Homo sapiens: one gene and its partner. The gene in region 1 interacts genetically with each later gene. Each region holds a gene or a part of one and is shown in the gene's direction. Other genes may lie near its edges.

Region 1 (11,798 bases):
CTGCAAGGGCTTCTTCCGGCGCAGTGTGGTCCGTGGTGGGGCCAGGCGCTATGCCTGCCGGGGTGGCGGAACCTGCCAGATGGACGCTTTCATGCGGCGCAAGTGCCAGCAGTGCCGGCTGCGCAAGTGCAAGGAGGCAGGGATGAGGGAGCAGTGTGAGTGCAGCGGGAGGGGGCGGTGCCGGCCTGGCCCCCCGCCTAGCCCTGGGGTTCTGCTGAGGCCTGCATCCCCCTACAGGCGTCCTTTCTGAAGAACAGATCCGGAAGAAGAAGATTCGGAAACAGCAGCAGGAGTCACAGTCACAGTCGCAGTCACCTGTGGGGCCGCAGGGCAGCAGCAGCTCAGCCTCTGGGCCTGGGGCTTCCCCTGGTGGATCTGAGGCAGGCAGCCAGGGCTCCGGGGAAGGCGAGGGTGTCCAGCTAACAGCGGCTCAAGAACTAATGATCCAGCAGTTGGTGGCGGCCCAACTGCAGTGCAACAAACGCTCCTTCTCCGACCAGCCCAAAGTCACGGTACTGCCCCCTCCACAACCTTGAGTGTGACGGTCCCAATGGGGTAGAGCCAGCTGGGCCATCACCCAGGGTGTGGGAGAATGAGGCTCCAGAGGGCAGGGGCTTTGGGAAGAGGATCCCCCAGGGTGCAGGCTTGGCCTCAAGGTGGCCACCCAGACTTAGGCTCACAAAGACCTGGGAGTGACCCTGGTCTCCTGTGTCCCAGCCCTGGCCCCTGGGCGCAGACCCCCAGTCCCGAGATGCCCGCCAGCAACGCTTTGCCCACTTCACGGAGCTGGCCATCATCTCAGTCCAGGAGATCGTGGACTTCGCTAAGCAAGTGCCTGGTTTCCTGCAGCTGGGCCGGGAGGACCAGATCGCCCTCCTGAAGGCATCCACTATCGAGGTAATGGTCCATCTGCCCACAAGGAACCCCAGAGATAGCTCCAGGACAGATGCTGGGAGCAGAGTTAAGGAAGACCAGTGCTTGCCGTTGTAGGATGACATTCCACGGCGAATAGAGTCTTCTATGAGCCAAGGAGAGAAAGGAAAAAGGGTCTGAGGCTGAGAAAATTGAGGATCAGGCTAGAGGCGCTATTGCAGAGAAAAGTTGCCAAAAAGGCTTTTCAGAGGAGTTAGCATTTGAATCAAAGTAGGGATAACATATAAGTATTGAGCACGTGCTGTATGCCAGGCTCTATTCCAAGTGTTGGCATATGGGGCAAAGAACAAAGCAGATCAAACCCCGTGCCCCAAACCTTGTGCTCACCTGGGGAAAGAGTATCCTAAGGAGATGGGGATGCAGCATGTGCGGAAGCCTGAAGTGGAGAAAGAGCTCGGGCTGTCTCACGTGATGGCTGCACGCTGGTGTGGCTGAGAGAACAGGGGGGAAGGGGACAAGGGATAATCCTGGTGAGATTAGACCCCCATTTGGGCCAGGAGGGGAGGGACTAGCAGCTGAAGGGTCACAGGGCTCAAGCTCCCCCTCCCGCTGCCGCCCTTAGATCATGCTGCTAGAGACAGCCAGGCGCTACAACCACGAGACAGAGTGTATCACCTTCTTGAAGGACTTCACCTACAGCAAGGACGACTTCCACCGTGCAGGTAGGGCCCAGGGGAGGCTTCGGGGAGGCTTGGCGCCCCTGCTGGCTGGAAGACCTGGGGCCAACTCATCCCTGTTGGAGTCTCTGTTTCTTTATCTCCAAAGTTGGGGTGAGGGTTGAGCCAAGGTGAGAGTGAGGTAAGAGTGCATGTGCCACGTGTGGTGGTGCACGCCAATAGTCCCAGCCACTCGAGGCTGAGGAGGGCAGATTGCTTGAGGCTATAGTGAGCCGTGATTGTGCGACGGCATTCCAGCCTGGTGACAGAGAAGACCGTGTCTCTATTTTTTAAAAAAAGCATGTATTGAGTGCCGACTCTGTACATTGGGTTGCAGTGGAAGTTGAGATGGGAGGAGCCCTGTTACCACATCAGGCATCTTGGTGGGCATTAGGAAAAGCATTCCCCGCCCCCGCCAAAACGTGGTCTCACCCAAGGGAGGCGGGCTGGAGCTCGGTCCATTGTGAAGCGGGCAGCCTTCTTTACTGTCTAGGGGAGCACTGCTTCCTGCCCTCTGAGAGCGCTAACCTGCGTGGGTGGGCTTCTGGAAGAAGGCCTGGGCAGTGAGAGGCACTGCCTAGGAAAAGGGTGGGAGGAGCATTGCTAGTGCTGCAGAGCATGCACCAGGGCCTCGCTCCCTCATTGTCCCACAATCTCTGGGGGACCTCTCTGTATTTCCCGACATCTGTCCAAACCCCACCCTCTCCCCTTCCTCTTACTCCGGCCCTTTCACCACCCGAGACGGTCCCAGTAACCCTTTTAGTATGAGCTTAGCAGGGCAGGGCTGCAGGGAAGCGTTTCTGGCAGAGGAGATTGGCGATTGCAGAGGCCCTGAGGTTGGGGAGAGCTGGTGGTTTGGAGGAACTACAGGGAGGCCCAGGCAGCTGGAGCACAAGGAGATGGGGTGGAGAGGAGGTCGGGAATCCCACCCTACCCCTTCCCAGCCGCTCCTCTGCCACCACCCTGGAACACTGCCAGGGTCCCCTTGAGGGGCCGCCTGCCTCCACCCCTGCCTGATGGGGCTGCTCACAGCACAGGCAGAAGGGTCCTGTCAGCACTTAAGGCTGCCCACTTCCCTCCTCCGCTCAGAACCCTCCGCGGCTCCCGTCTCACTGGGAGAAGAGCTAGAGTCCTCTCTGTGGCCCACAAAGCCCTTTAGGACCTGGCCTCGCTCACTCTCTGCCCTCAGCTCTCACCCTCTCCCCCTGTTCCAGCCACTCTGGCCTCTTACTGGCACCCATCCAGCATGCTGCAGCCAAGGGCCTGTGTACTTGGAGTTTCCTCTGCCCAGAACTAGGGGGACCAACTGGTCCTAGTTTGCCCAGGACCTTCCCAGTTTTAACACTGAAAGTCTCATGGCCTGGGTAGCCCCCGTCCCAAGTCATGGGAACAGCAGACGTTGGTCACCCTCACAATCCCTCATCTCCTTCGGATTGGTCACTGCTCCAGCGTCACCCAGAGCGCAGCCTTCCCTGCCCGCCTTGTGTAAAATAGAACCATGGCTCAGCAGGGCCCTTCACACTTCTCTGCACTGCCTGGTTCCATTGAACTCACAGCCCTCTGACAGGCTGGGCCTCTTCCTAATGTGTTTGTCTATGACCGGTCCCCTAGGCTCTCAAATGTAAGTGCTGGAGCCTGGCACGTGGCAGGTACTCAGTGACATTTGATGACTGAATGAACAAGTCAGTTTTGGGAATGAGTTTGGGCTTTACCTTGAGCAGTGGAAGCCAGCGCTGGGACCAGCACGATGTGACCTAGGTTTTAAAAGCTTCCCTTTGCCTTTGTGAAGGGGACAAGAATAGGGACTCGGGAAGCTGCAGCCACCGCCCAGGTGGGAAGGGAGGGTGGTGATAGGATAGTAGAAAATACTGAAGAAACATGCACCCTCATTCATTCCTTCACTGGGCAGCATGTGTGGCACACCTACTACATGCCAGCACTCATGGGCACGGGGCACAGGTGGACAGAAATGACAAGAACGCTGTAATTACTGCTGTGTTCCCAGCCCCAGAGACTGTGGGCAGCGCCAGGGTCCAGGATGTGGGGCACGGTTTCGGGCTGAGGGAGTCACGGGCTGCCTCCCGCCCCGCAGGCCTGCAGGTGGAGTTCATCAACCCCATCTTCGAGTTCTCGCGGGCCATGCGGCGGCTGGGCCTGGACGACGCTGAGTACGCCCTGCTCATCGCCATCAACATCTTCTCGGCCGACCGGCCCAACGTGCAGGAGCCGGGCCGCGTGGAGGCGTTGCAGCAGCCCTACGTGGAGGCGCTGCTGTCCTACACGCGCATCAAGAGGCCGCAGGTAGGGCCCCGCAGAGCCTCTGCGCAGAGCCAACTACGTCCCGCGGCCCACGTGGTCCGTTCAGGCTGGGTTCTGCCAGCCACACTGCCCTCCCCTCCGCAGAGTCTTTCCTCAGGCCCCACCCTGCTCGACTGGGAGCCAGGTCTAGTCCAAGCACAGAGGCGGGCCCCACGCTGGCTCCCACGCCTGGTCGGGGAGGGGCCCTCCTTTCTGTTGGGGTGGGCCTCCCAAAGCCTGGCAGGGCAGGGGCTCAGCCAGCGCCCACCTGCCTCCTCCCTCAGGACCAGCTGCGCTTCCCGCGCATGCTCATGAAGCTGGTGAGCCTGCGCACGCTGAGCTCTGTGCACTCGGAGCAGGTCTTCGCCTTGCGGCTCCAGGACAAGAAGCTGCCGCCTCTGCTGTCGGAGATCTGGGACGTCCACGAGTGAGGGGCTGGCCACCCAGCCCCACAGCCTTGCCTGACCACCCTCCAGCAGATAGACGCCGGCACCCCTTCCTCTTCCTAGGGTGGAAGGGGCCCTGGGCCGAGCCTGTAGACCTATCGGCTCTCATCCCTTGGGATAAGCCCCAGTCCAGGTCCAGGAGGCTCCCTCCCTGCCCAGCGAGTCTTCCAGAAGGGGTGAAAGGGTTGCAGGTCCCGACCACTGACCCTTCCCGGCTGCCCTCCCTCCCCAGCTTACACCTCAAGCCCAGCACGCAGTGCACCTTGAACAGAGGGAGGGGAGGACCCATGGCTCTCCCCCCTAGCCCGGGAGACCAGGGCCTTCCTCTTCCTCTGCTTTTATTTAATAAAAACTAAAAACAGAAACAGGAAAATAAAATATGAATACAATCCAGCCCGGAGCTGGAGTGCAAGATGGAGAGGGCGCGGGCTTCTAGGGACCTCAGTGACACTGGGTGCCCGAACCTGATTGAGCAGGTGGGACTGGGTGTCCCCAGGCTGTTGGGAAAAGGGTGGCACATAGGGTCCCAGTGTTGGGTGGTGTGTCGCCTGCTGTGAAAGTTCAGGACAGAGGCCTCAGCCTCAGGGTCACCTCCCTGGACAAGGTGAATCAGAACTCACCCTTGAAGGATAAACAGGATTTAAGTGAATGAGGGGACCTGGACTTCTGTCCGAACAACAAGTGTTTGCTGAGGCCTCCTGTGGGCCAGGCACTGGGTTGGCCATTCTAGAGATGGAGACATTCACCCAATAAATGTTTCCAGAGCATTAACTACAGTTAGGCACAATTCTAGGCACTGGAAACATCTGTGAACAAGATAACCATCCTCCTACCAAGACTCGGGGGATAGGGACTTTAATGAGCGTGGCACTGTGGTGGGGCTAGAGGAAATCAGGGAAGGTATCACAACAGAGGCAATCGCTGGGACCTAAAACAAGAGCCTGGGGGCTGGGCCTCCAAGTTGAGGGAACAGCACGTGCAAAGTTTGAAAGGAGAGACGCCAGGAGTTCGGAGCGAAGCGACGAAGTTCCTCCAATCCTTCCTGCCCCTGTGCCAGCCCTGAAGGAGCTGAATGAGCAATTCCAATCGAGGGCGAAAGGGGGGTTGGATGGAGGGATGCAACTTAAAGGTGTATTTATTTGGGGCGGGGAACAGCGGAAGTGAGAGTAGTTACCAATGATCACCTTATCCTAAGAGTAGTGTACCGGGCGCCCCACAAGTGTCCCTATCATGCGTTGTTGAGTCTAATTTACGTATAGGGAAACTGAAGCTAGGATGAAGGAGAACAGATCAAGCCAGGACTCTACCGCTTATCGGCCAGCCTCTGCGGGGATCTTGGGCGTCAGGTCACCAGCTGGCTGCTGGGCAGCGACGGGGCAGCGCTCCCTACACGGCCCCGGGCGAGAGGCGGGCGGGGGGACGCGGAGGATGCGCGCGCAACACCCGAGGGTGGGAGGAGAGAGAACAGAACCGCGGCGCGCCCAGACCGCACGAGGTCGTGAAGGTAGCCGCGCGGAGGGGCGTGGCTTCGGGCAGACAGGTCATGGGGAGGCGGAGTTAAGGGAATTTTTCAGCAAGGGGGCGAGGCCACTTCGGAAGCTGAGAGAGGGGGCGGGGCCTGCCCTGCAGTCGAACAAGCGGGGCGTGGCCTTGCCCGCACTTGGGCAGGCGGGGGCGTGGCCCGTCTCTGAGCGCCGCGGCTCTGGGCTTGCGCGCGCGGGAGTCAGGGGTCACGGCGGCGTAGGCTGTGGCGGGAAACGCTGTTTGAAGCGGGTGAGTAGAGGGGAAAAAGGGAGTTCGGGGCAGTGGGCCTGGTAGGGAACGGGGCTTGAGCAGCCAGGCACATAGATCTGAGAGACGGTTGCGAGGGCACCCTTTGGCCCGGGGGCGCGCAGGAGAGGGCAGGGGCCAGGGGTTTCCTGGGCGAGGGCGCGGGGACGAGCAGGAAAAGGCCGGGGTGGGGGTGGAATTCCTCGGCGGGCAGGGGGCGCATGCGCCGGGCACCGTGGGGCGGGACGTGGCCCGGGAGGAGCTGGGGGGACTGGGTGGTGCACGTGCGGGCTTGGTGTCATCCTGGATTCGCTGGGTGTTTGAGTACTCTGTGCCAGGCACTTTTCTGGAAGCAGGAACAAGTCAGAGAAGTCCCTGTCTCGGGAAGACAGACGGTAGACAAGTGATGAGTTTTAATAGATCAGTAAAGCAGTGCTCTGGGGCTGTGAGATGCTCTCAGAAGGAAACTAACGCAGGGTAACGTGATAATGAGCGAAGAGCCTGTTGCTTTAGCTGGAGTGGTCCAGAATCGACCGCTCTGGGACCCTCAAGTGCAAAGCCCTGAGGTGGAAGGAGCTTGGCGTATTTGTAGCAGGAGCCGAGGGGACGAGAGAAACACAGATGAGGTCGGAGTCATGATGGGGAACTAGATCCTATAGGGCCTTGTAAAACTTGGTATGGAATTTCTCCTTTATTCTAGGTTCAGCGGGGAGCCGTGGGAGGGTTTGAGCGTGGAAACAACACGATTCGCCCCATGTTTTGAAAAACTCACCACTGAGTGGAAATTGGATTGTAGCAGGAATAAGAATGGAAGGAGGGAGATCTGTTAGGAGGGAGAGCGTCCTGCAGGCAGAGAATCAGGCTCCGGTTACCTTTGCGGGCGGAGACAGGGGGACTGGCTGATGGACTGGGCGTAGGAGCAAGGGGAAGAGTCCAGGATGACTCCTGGGTTTGTGGTTTGAGCAGCAGGCTGGATGGGGAAGGCTAAGGGAGAAGCAGGTTGGGGTTGCCGCTCTGAAGGCAAAGATTAGTGGGGGAGTGAGTGGGCAGGGTTTAGAGCGGAGCCAGGAGTGGGCAGGGCGATGTCAGTGCCTCGCCTCAGCCCTTCCACTGAAGGAACTTGTTGCCACTGTCTTCTCTTTTTTTTTTTTTTTTTTTTGAGACAGAGTCTTGCTCTGTCACCCAGGCTGGAATGCAGTGGTGCAAACTCAGCTCATTGCAACCTCCGCCTCCCGAGTTCAGGCGAGTCTCGTGCCTCAGCCTCCTGAGTAGCTGGGATTACGGCACCCACTGCCATGCCCAGCTCATTTTTTGTATTTTTAGTAGAGATGGGGTTTCGCCGTGTTGGCCAGGCTGGTCTCGAACTCCTGACCTCAGGTGATCCACTTGCCTCGGCCTCCCAAAGTGCTGGGATTACAGGCGTGAGCCACCACGCACGGCCGCTTCTCCTCCTTCCTGCACTTCCCCCCCACAGGTCTCTCTTCCCCCTAGAGAGGTTCCTTCCCTCCCCCTGAAATGCTCTTCCCTCTCTTATGTGTTTCTGACAGCTGCTGTTTGGACAGGCCCTCTGCTGAGCACTGGGGAGCCAATGATCATTCAGTTTGGTTGGGGAAGGACAGGAGATTTCAGTCCAGAGTGCGCTGAGCTATGGCGGAGCAGTGATAGTCTTTGGGAGCCAAGAGAAGAACCTGTGCGCTCAGGGAAGACTCACCAGAGTGGTTGATATTCACAGGGAGTTTCAACTCACATGTCTTTTTTTTTTTGGTTTTTGAGACAGGGTCTTGCTCTGTCGCCCAGGCTGGAGTGCAGTGGCGCGATCTCGGCTCACTAACCTCCACCTCCCGGGTTCAAGCGATTCTCATGCCTCAGGCTTCCGAGTAGCTGGGATTACAGGTGTGTGCCACCACGCCCAGCTAATTTTTGTATTTTTAGTAGAGACAGGGTTTTGTCATGTTGCCCAGACTGGTCTCGAATCCCTGACCTCAAGTAATCCTCCCACCTCGGCCTCCCAAAGTGCTGGGATTACAGGTGTGAGCCACCACACCCGGCCTAAACTCATGTCTTGAAGTAACCGGACACTGTGCAGAGTGATGCTGGAGACCCCAACTTGGGCAAGATGCTGACTCCTTTTCTCAAGGAGCTCACAGGCTGAAAGGATCCCAGCTCTGCATTGTGCAATAACGAAAGTGGCACAAGGCGTTGTGGGAACCCTGAAGGGCAGCTGGTCAGCTTGGAGGAGCTAAGCCTGAGCTGAGTCTCTGGATGCAGTGGAGTTTCATGCAGCGAACACTGCCTAAGGCCTCCTGGGGGCCCACCCTGTGCTGGGTGATGCTAAGGTCCCAGAGGAGAGTCAGTCCTTGCTCTGCCATCCAGAGGTCCCTGGCTGGTAAGGGAGGAAGACACACACCCAGGCAGTCCAGAGACAGCAGTCACAGAGGCCTAGGGGAAGGACAAGGCCGAAAGCATGCAGGTGAGCCTGGGCAACATAGCAAGACCCTGTCTCTACAAAAAATACAAAAGCTAGGCCGGGCGCGGTGGCTAAGGCCTGTAATCCCAGCACTTTGGGAGGCCGAGGCGGGCAGATCATGAGGTCAGGAGACCAAGACCATCCTGGCTAACACGGTGAAACCCCGTCTCTACTAAAAATACAAAAAATTAGCCGGGCGTGGTGGTGGGCGCCTGTAATCCCAGCACTTTGGGAGGCCGAGGTGGACGGATCACTTGAGGTGAGGAGTTTGAGACCAGTCTGGCAGACATGGTGAAACTCTACTAAAAATACACAACTAGCTGGACATGGTGGGCGCCTGTAATCCCAGCTACCTGCGAGGCTGAGGCAGGAGAATCACTTGAGTCCAGGAGGCGGAGGTTGCAGTGAGCAAGATCCTTTCCCAAAAAAATATATAAATAAAAATAAAGCTGTGAGATTGGGCAAGATTGGATGAGGTCATTGAGGAAATGAGTGTCTCACTCATCGAGAAAACTGGTGTCTGGCCTGCAGCGAGCACGTGGTGTCATTTTGTTGCTGAATCTCTGTTAAGTGCTTGCTACCGAAGGGTCGTGAGAGGGGCAGAGGACAGTGTTTGCCAAGCTCTCATCCTGTGCCAGGGCCAATGAGAGGGGACACACAGGGGCCTTTCCTTCCTAATGCTGCTGTGCCTCCACTAACAAGAGCCCAGGTTTTGCCCCTGGTGACACCGTCCCTCCCACCGCACCCCCGCAGCCACAGCCAACTGACCAAGGGCAGCCAGTCAGCTCCTTCCTTCCTCCTCCAGCTTCAGCACTGACTCTGGGCTCCCACAAGCCCCTGCGCTTCCTCTGTCCCACCCGGGTCTCTCCTCGCAGATCATCACTCCCTGTCCCTCTCTGGCTACTTGCACAACCCGAAGCCAGAGCCGCTAACGACGCTTGCTTCTTCCTGTAAGTCACACATGTACGCGGTTGTCACCCAAAGAGCACAAACGCAGTCAAAGTCTTCCTCACACAAAACCCCCTGCACACGCTCACGGCTGCACCACTCACAAAAGGTGGAAGCAACCCTAATGTCCATCCACTGATGAAGGGATACGTCAGACGTGTTCTAGCCATACAGCGGAAAAGTACTCAGCAAAAAAGGGACACAGCACTGACGAAAGGCCGCCACACACATGAGCGATGAACACATTCAGAGAAAGCAGCCAGACACAAGAGGCTGCATATTCCAAGATCCCATTTATAGGAAATGCCCAGAATAGGCAGATCCATGGAGACAGAAAGTTAGATGAGTGGCTGCCAGGGGTGGGGGCAGATGGGCTGAATGCAGGGAGAGAGCTAAAGGATTTAGGCTTTTTGGGGTGATGAGAGAGTTCTAAAATTGACTGTGGTGATGGTTGCCTAACTCTGAACATACTAAATACCATTGAACTATATATACTTTAAATGGGTGAATTGTATAGTATGTGAATTATAGCTCAATAAAGCAGTTAGCAAATGAAGTCTTCTACCCTGTCCCCCAGGAAACCAGTTTCTTAGCTCTCCTTATAGAATGATGCATTAAAAGCAAATAGATTTATACATATGCCCTGCATTACAATAAAAAAGACGTCTACATACTCCCTGCATTACAATAAAAAAGACGTCTACATACTCCCTGCATTAAAAGCAAAAAGATTTCTACATACTCTTCTGCCCACCTTGTAAATTTGTTACTATTTTCATTTTATATATTTCCCCCTTAATATTTTGAAAAGTTTCAAACCTGCAGAGAAGGTACAAATTGAGTACAGTGAACAGCCATGGCCCTTTGCCTAGATTCACTGGCTGTTGGCATGACACCTCATTTGCTTTATGCTTTATCCAAGCACATGCATATACCTGTACCTTTTGTCCTTTTTTTGGCTGAACTATTTGAAAGTTGTGGTCATCATGATACTTCACCTCTGAAAACTCCAGCAGTTAACTCTTTTTTTTTTTTTTTTTTTTTTTTTGAGACGGAGTCTTGCTCTGTCACCCAGGCTGGAGTACAGTGGTGCGACCTTGGCTCACTGCAACCTCTGCCTCCCAGGTTCAAGCGATTCTCCTATTGCAGCTTCCTGAGTAGCTGGGACTATAGGCGCGCACCACCACATCTGGCTAATTTTTGTATTTTTAGTAAAGATGGGGTTTCACCATCTTTGCCAGGCTGCTCTTGAACTCCTGACCTTATGATCTACGTGCCTCTGCCTCCCAGAGTGCTGGGATTACAGGCATGAGCCACCGCACCTGGCCTCTTTTTTTTTTTTTGGTACAGTATTTTACTCTGTCATGCAGGTTGTAGTGCAGTGGGGTGGTCACAGCTCACTGCAGCCTCGACCTCCCCAGGCTCAGCTGATCCTCAGCCTCTCGAGTAGCTGGGACTAAAGGTGTGTGCCACCACACCCTGCTAATTTTTATATTGTTTATAGAGACAGGGTGTCACCATGTTGCCTAGGCTGATCTCAAACTCCTGGGTTCAAGCAATCCCCCTGCCTCGGCCTCCAAATGTCCTGGGATTACAGCCGTGAGCCACCGTACCTGGCCTCCAGCAGTCAGCTCTTAAGAACAGGGATGTCCGCCTGCAGAACTACAGTGTCATTGTCATCATCATGCAGTTTAACATGAGACAGTGACGTTATTGAATAGACGATTCTTATTTAGATCTGCCACGTGTCCCTGTAATATTCTTCAAGGCTATAAATAATTTCTTATTTTTTTTTTTTTTCCAAGACTGAGTCTTGCTCTATCGCCCAGGCTGGAGTGCAGTGGCACTATCTCGGCTCACTGCAACCTCTGCCTCCTGGGTTCAAGCCATTCTCTTGCCTCAGCCTCCCGAATAGCTGGAATTACAGGCATGCACCACCACGCCCGGCTAATTTTTTTGTATTTTTTGTAGAGACGGGGTTTCATTTTGGCCAGGCTGGTCTCGAACCCCTGACCTCAGGTGATCCGCCCGCCTTGGGCTCCCAAAGTGCTAGGATTACAGGCGTGAGCCACCATGTCCAGCCTGTTTTTTTTTTTGTTTTTTGTTTTGTTTTTTTTTTCTTTTTTGAAACAGAGCCTCATTGTCACCCAGGCTGGAGTGCAGTGGTGCGATCTTGGCTCACTGCAACCTCCACCTCCCAGGTTCAATCAATTCTCCTGCCTCAGCCTCCCGAGTAGCTAGGATTACAGGCGCCTGGCACCACGCCCAGCTAATTTTTAT
Region 2 (7,000 bases), on another chromosome or scaffold:
TTCATTTAGATGTCATTTCAGAATCACCTTCTCTGATTTTCCTACTTGAGATTGCTTTGTAGTTGTAAGACATTTTCAAATGTGATAGTTGCTATTAAAATGTTAAATGGAACAGTGGGATGTGGAGGAGGTTCTGAGGAGCAGCAGCATTAGCCACTAGAGGAGATTTGATGGTGTAAAGAAGCTAGTCACGTGAATCTGGGATGGAATAGGAAGTACAAAGGCCCATAAGTGGGAATGAGCCTGCTTTTTTTTTTTTTTTTTTGAGACGGAGTCTCGCCCTCTCCAGTGGCGTGATCTCTGCTCACTGCAACCTCTGCCTCCCGGGTTCAAGCGATTTTCCTGTCTCAGCCTCCCTTTCCTGTAGCTGGGACTACAGGCTTGCACCACCGAGCTAATTTTTATATTGTTAGTGAAGATGGGGTTTTACCATGTTGCACAGGTTGTCTCCAACTCCTGACCTCAAGTGATGCACCCACCTCAGCCACCATGCCAAGGCTGAATGAGCCTACTTTTAAAAGGATAGTAAGAAGGCTGGAGCACAGGGAGTAAAGAGGGGAGTGGTATGAGTTAAACAGGGAGGGGTAGGCAAGGGCCACATCCTTCAGCACCTTGGAGGCTAGAAAAAGGAGTGAGATTTTATTGTGTGATGGGAAACCATTGGAATCTTTTAAACAGGGAAATAAGCAAGTTTTTTAAAACTTGCTTAATTTTTACTTCCTTAAAATCCTTCAGTGCTTACACATTGCCTTCAGTGTAAAATCCAAACTACTTAGCCAGTCCTTTGAAATTTAACCTTATCTTCCCTCTTCAGCTGCATCTCTAAAGGCTTTAGCCACATAGAGCCTCTTACAGTTTCCAGTGCTTGGACTACCCTCCCTCTTACCCTTATTTCACTGCCTTGTCCCTTAGGGAGTCAGTTTTGTATCACCTCGTTAAGGAAGCCATGACTGACAGGGCCCTGCTCAGGGCTGAGTGTCCCTTTGTGTTCTTTCTTGGGCCTGTCAGTTCTTAACCATAATTACCTCTTGTTTGTCCTTTAATCTGCAAATTATTTTAGGGCAGGTGCATTCTGTCTTGGTTATCCTGGTATTTGATGCTTACCTCAGAGGAGGTGCCTAAGCTTTATATAATACTTACATTAATACTCAAATTTTATAGTATGCTTTTGAAAAGTTATACCCTCTTAGCTCAGTTCCAGGGTAGAAGTCACAAAATAAGAAGTGCTCACTCCTGTGAGTTTTCTTTCTTTTTTCTTTTTTTTTTTTTTTTTTTGAGACTGGCTCACCTGTTGCTCAGGCTGGAGTTCAATAGCATGAACATGTCTCACTGCAACCTCTGCCTCCTGGGGTCAAGCGATCCTCCCACCTCAGCCTCCCAAGTAGCTGGGACTACAGGTGTGTGCCACCATGCCTGGCTAATTTTTGTATTTTTGTAGACGGGGTTTCACCATGTTGCCCAGGCTGGTCTCAAACTCCTGGGCTCAAGTGATCCGCCCACCTCAGCCTCCCAAAGTGCTGGGATTACAGACATGAGCCACCACGCCCGGCCAAGTTTCTTTCTTCTGATAGTAGATCTAATGAATGGTAATCAATTTACATTTTTCTAAAACTGATTTTTAAAAATTACACAAATAATACATGAGTACATAATCTTTACAAAATGAAACTTTGTAAGAAACTCTGACCACTACCCACAATCCTGGCTCCTCTTCCCATGTTCCTCTTTGTTCACATTTTTAAATGATACTTGTGAAATTACTGTGGTTTATCATAATGTCTCCTGACTTTGTCTAAAACAATTCATGTTACCTTGTAATTACAGATTTTGAATTTTTTGTTAAATTTGTGATGCCCTATACTATGGTAGCCACTAGCCAAATGTGACCATTGACCACCTCACATGCGGCTAGTCTAAATTGAGATGTGCTGTAAATATAAGATACACAGTGGGTTTCAAAGACTTAGTACCAGAAAAAAGAATGTAAAAGATCTCATGAATAATTTTTATATCGATTACACATTCACCTAATATTTCAGATATATTGTTAGGATCAATTGTTTTTTTCCTGTTTCTTTTCTTAATGTGGCTACCAGAAAATAACAAAATTATGGCTTACGTTATATTTCTATTGGCCAGCGCTGATTTAAATAAGATACATAGCACTAAGTTGTTTTGCTTTCATATGCAAATGTAACTACTTGTTCTTTGATTCTTTTTTTTTTTTAAGGACTTTATTTAGTAGCATATACAAACTTGCTTTTTTTTTTTTTTTTTTTTGAGATGAAGTCTCACTCTGTCATCCAGGCTGGAGTGCAGTGGTGCGATCTTGGCTCACTGCAACCTCCACCTCCATGTCCCAGCGATTCTCCTGCCTCAGTGCCACAGCTTCCCAAGTAACTAGGATTATAGGCGCCCACCACCACGCCTGGCTAATTTTTCTATCTTTTAGTAGAGAAAGGGTTTCACCATGTTGGGCAGCCTGATCTGGAACTCCTGACCTGAAGTGATCAGTCCGTCTCAGCCTCCCAAAGTGCTGTGATTACAGGCATGAGCCACCACGCCTGGCCCTTTGATTCTTTGTGTCTAGAGTTTATGTTACTTAAAAACATTTGTTAATTTCAGTAAGTTTTTCTATTAAGCAAGTTCTAGGTGATGTAGCAGAGGCAAAAAGAAATAAAATGCATTTTCTCTCCTATAAGAGCTTACGGTCTAATGGCACTTTAGGACATGCAGAGAGAAATAAAGCACAGTCTGCCACCTGTAGGAGCTTATAGTCTAGTGGCAGGGAATAGGTAAATATTCCATAGGTCCAGAAGGCTGTACATTAGGAATGAAGAAACCACAAAATTCAGGAAGGTTCTTATGAACCATTCATTCATTGAAGAGTTGTTTTTTTTTCTTTAAATGTCTACTATGTACCAGGACCAGAGAACAGTTCTTTTTTTTCTTTTCTATTTTTTGGAGACAGGGGTCTGGTTTTGTCACCGAGGCTGGAGTGCAGTGACACAATCTTGGCTCACTGTAGCCTCCCAGGCTCAAGCGATCCTCCCACCTCAGCCTCCTGAGTAGCTGGGGACTACAGGTGTGTGTCTCTATACCTGCTCATTTTTCTATTTCTTTTGTAGAGACAGGGTTTCATCATGTTGCTCAGGCTGGTCTCAAACTCCTGAGCTCAAGCAGTCTGCCCACCTTGGACTCCCAAAGCACTGGGATTACAGGCATGAGCTACCATGCCCGACCAGTATCAGTTCTTTTATGGCATTTATTAGCTGTAAATGCTATTGATCCTATATGTAATCAATTAGGATTGGACTTTGTGGTTTGAATAATCAAAAAAAAAAAAAAAAAAAAAAAAAAAGTCAGGCCGGGCGTGGTGGCTCACGCCGATAATCCCAGCACTTTGGGAGACCGAGGCGGATGGATCATGAGGTCAGTAAATCGAAACCATCCTGGCTAACATGGTGCAACCCCGTCTCTACTAAAAATACAAAAAATTAGCCGGGCGTGGTGGCACGTGCCTGTAGTCCCAGCTACTCGGGAGGCTGAGGCAGGAGAATCACTTGAAGCTGCGAGGCGGAGGTTGCAGTGAGCCGAGATCACACCACTGCGCTCCAGCCTGGGCGACAGAGCGAGACTCCGTCTCAAAAGAAAAAAAAAAGAAAAAGGGCCGGGTGCGGTGGCTCACGCCTGTAATCTCAGCACTTTGGGAGGCTGAGGCGGGCGGATTACCTGAGGTCAGGAGTTCGAGCCAGCCTGGCCAACATGGTGAAACCCCGTCTCTACTAAAAATACAAAAATTAGCTGGGTGTGGTGGCACACGCCTGTAATCCTAGCTACTTGGGAGGCTGAGGCAGGAGAATTGCTTGAGCCCGGGTGGCGGAGGTTGCAGTGAGCCAAGATCGTGCCACTAACTGCACTTCACCCTGGCCGACAGAGCGAGACTCTGTATCAGAAAAAGAAAAAAATTCACTCTTTTTCTTTTACCACTATTTGAGATAATAAGTGGGGAAAATGTATGAACATTTTACAGTGCTATATAGAAATAAATTGTGACATATATGAAATATATGCTATTATTTATAAGTAACTGTCTTACTACACCCTAAGTTGTTTTGTCAGAAGTGATGGACTTTGCTAATCACTCACACATAACCCACTGTGAATCCTCTAGGTAGAGTTAATCATTCCCTGCTTTGGGTGTACATGATACTTGCTTTTGATTATTTATTTATTTATTTATTTATTTATTTATTTATTTATTTATTGAGACTGAGTCTCGCTCTGTCGCCCAGGCTGGAGTACAGTGGCGCGATCTCGACTCACTGCAATCTCCGCCTCCCAGATTCAAGCGATTCTCCTGCCTCAGCCTCCTGAGCAGCTGGGACTACAGGCGCCCGCCACCACACCCAGCTGATTTTTGTGTTTTCAGCAGAGATGGGGTTTCACCATGTTAGCCGGGATGGTTTAGATCTACTGACCTCATGATCCGCCTGCCTTAGCCTCCCAAAATGCTCGTATTACAGGCGTGAGCCACCATGCCCGGCCGCTTTTGATTATTTAAGTGCATTCCTCTCCTCTCCCCAGCAACTATTCTGAGTTCTTTGAAGCAGAGGATCTTGTTTTACTTGCCTTTTGAATTTATTAAATTATTTGCGTCTGTACCCATCCATTCTTTCTATGTTTATGAAAGAGTTACCCTCCTGTCCAAGGATTGTCTTTTTACTTATATCTGGTTCCAAGAAGAGGAGTCACATCTCAAGAATTGGTTGCTTAGGTCTTTCCATTATAAGGGAGAAACAAAACAAAGCCCTCTTGATCTCATACAGTTCTTTAGTTATCACCAACTCTACTTCTCTTCATTTCATGATCAAGCTTTGGAAAGAACCCGCTATTCTCAGTATTCACATTTCATTAGATTTTCAGCCCCTTGCAATCTGGCTTCTCTCTTTACTGCTACAGGAAAATTTTAAAAGTCCAAAAGGCATACAAATACCTAAACATAAGAACTAAAACTATGAAACTCTTAGAAGTGAACATAGAGGGGGCCGGGCATGGTGGCTCACACCTATAATCCCAGCACTTTGGGAGGCCAAGATGGGTGGATCACCTGAGGTCAGGAGTTCCAGACTAGCCTGACCAACATGGAGAAACCCTGTCTCTACTAAAAATATACAAAATTAGCCAGGCGTGGTGGTACATGCTTGTAATCGCAGCTACTCAGGAGGCTGAGGCAGGAGAATCGCTTGAACCCAGGAGGCGGAGGTTGCGGTGAGCTGAGATCGCGCCATTGCACTCCAGCCTGGGCAACAAGAGTGAAACTCTGTCTCAAAAAGTAAATAAATAAATAAAAATAAGGGAACATAGAGGGAAAACATTATGACACTGGATTTGGCAATGATTTCTTTGATATGACACAAAGCACAGGCAGCAAAATAAACAGATAAATTGGAATTCATCAAAATTAAAAACTTTGTGCATCAAAGGGCAGTATCAATAGAGTGAAAAGGCAACCCATGGAACTGGAGAAAATATTTGCAAATCATATGTCTGATAAGGAGTTTAATATCTAGAATATATTAAGAACTCCTACAGCTTAACAACAAATATAACCTGATGAAAAACAGAAAAAGAACTTGAATAGACATTTCTCCAAAGAAGATATACAAATGGACAAATAAGCACATGAGAAGATGCTCACAATTACTAATCATTAGGGAGATGCAAATCAAAACCACAGGATACTGTTTCACACCCATTATGATAGCTATTAATAAAAAAACAGTTGGGGCTGGGCATGTTGGCTGATGCCTGTAATCCCAGCACTTTGGGAGGCTGAGGCAGGCGGATCACGAGGTCAGGAGATTGAGACCATCCTGGCCAACATGGTAAAACCCCATCTCTACTAAAATACAAAAAATTAGCCAGGCATGGTGGTGCATGCCTGTAGTACCAGCTACTTGAGAGGCTGAGGCAGGAGAATTGCTTGAACCCGGGAGACAGAGGTTGCAGTGAGTTGAGATCATGCCACTGCACTCCAGCCTGGTGACAGAGCAAGACTCTGTCTCAAAAAAAACCAAAAAACAAAAAAAATCCCACAAAAAAAAAACACAGTTGGGCATGGTGACTCATGCCTACAATCCCAGCACTTTGGGAGGTCAAAGCAGGCAGATCGCTTGAGCCCAGGAGATTGAGACCAGCCTGGGCAACGTGGTGAAACCCTGTCTCTACAAAAAATACAAAAAATTAGCTGGGTGTGGTGACATGCACCTGTGGTGCCAGCTACTCAGGAGGCTGAGGTGGGAGGATCTCCTGAGGCTGGGAGGTTGAGGCTGCAGTGAGTTATGGGTGCACCACTGCACAGTAACCTGGGCAACAGGGTTAGACCCTGTCGCCAAAAGGGGAAAATAAAATAATAATAAAAAAACACCCAGAAAATAACGTGTGTTGGTGAAGATGTGGAGAAATTGGAACCCTTGTCCACTGCAGGTGGGAGTGTACAATGGTACAGCCACTGTGGAAAAGGGTATTAGCGTTCCACCAAAAATTTAGTTTTTATGTGCTTCAGAAGGGAGGAAGTGAATGCTAATTGGTCCATAGGCAGTCATGGGTGGGCCTGGAAAAAGCACCCTAAGTTCTCGCTGTGGTCCGTGTAACTGGCAGCCAGGCTTCCAGGCTTCAAGCTGTTCCTGGCTTGAAGGTGGGTCTTCACTGGGGACCCACCCCTTTCCTCCCAGGAGCCTACTTCCTGCTGCCATCAACCTGCCACCCACTACACCGAGGCTGTTCGTGCCGAGGGGCGCCTGCAGGCCCATATTGAGCTGCCCTCAGCCTACCGCTTGGCCTGCCCAAAGTCCAGAGGGAGATGAGGCAGCAGGGGGCTGGTGTGTCAGTGCCGTCCTGAGCACATGCACACGCGGCCTGGTCCTGACAACACCTGGGCTCCCCCACAACTTTGCTCCGAAATTGGTGTGGGTGCCGGGAGCGGGGAGAGGCCAGG

The links.
Region 2: changes in POLD1 (region 1) and ATR are lethal when combined (synthetic lethality), as found in Homo sapiens cells (2 studies listed by BioGRID).

What each region holds. Positions count from the first base shown.
Region 1 is NC_000019.10:50,378,285-50,390,082, forward strand, and holds the start of POLD1 (DNA polymerase delta catalytic subunit), read left to right. Parts: upstream 1-6,062; 5' UTR 6,063-6,106; intron 6,107-7,650; exon of another isoform or gene 7,651-8,573; intron 8,574-9,375; exon of another isoform or gene 9,376-9,520; intron 9,521-11,798. Other genes in the region: NR1H2 (oxysterols receptor LXR-beta), read left to right, coding at 1-155, 238-512, 718-897, 1,496-1,595, 3,682-3,890, 4,172-4,318. UniProt on the Homo sapiens protein: As the catalytic component of the trimeric (Pol-delta3 complex) and tetrameric DNA polymerase delta complexes (Pol-delta4 complex), plays a crucial role in high fidelity genome replication, including in lagging strand synthesis, and repair.
Region 2 is NC_000003.12:142,568,734-142,575,733, reverse strand, and holds part of ATR (serine/threonine-protein kinase ATR), read left to right. Parts: intron 1-7,000. UniProt on the Homo sapiens protein: Serine/threonine protein kinase which activates checkpoint signaling upon genotoxic stresses such as ionizing radiation (IR), ultraviolet light (UV), or DNA replication stalling, thereby acting as a DNA damage sensor.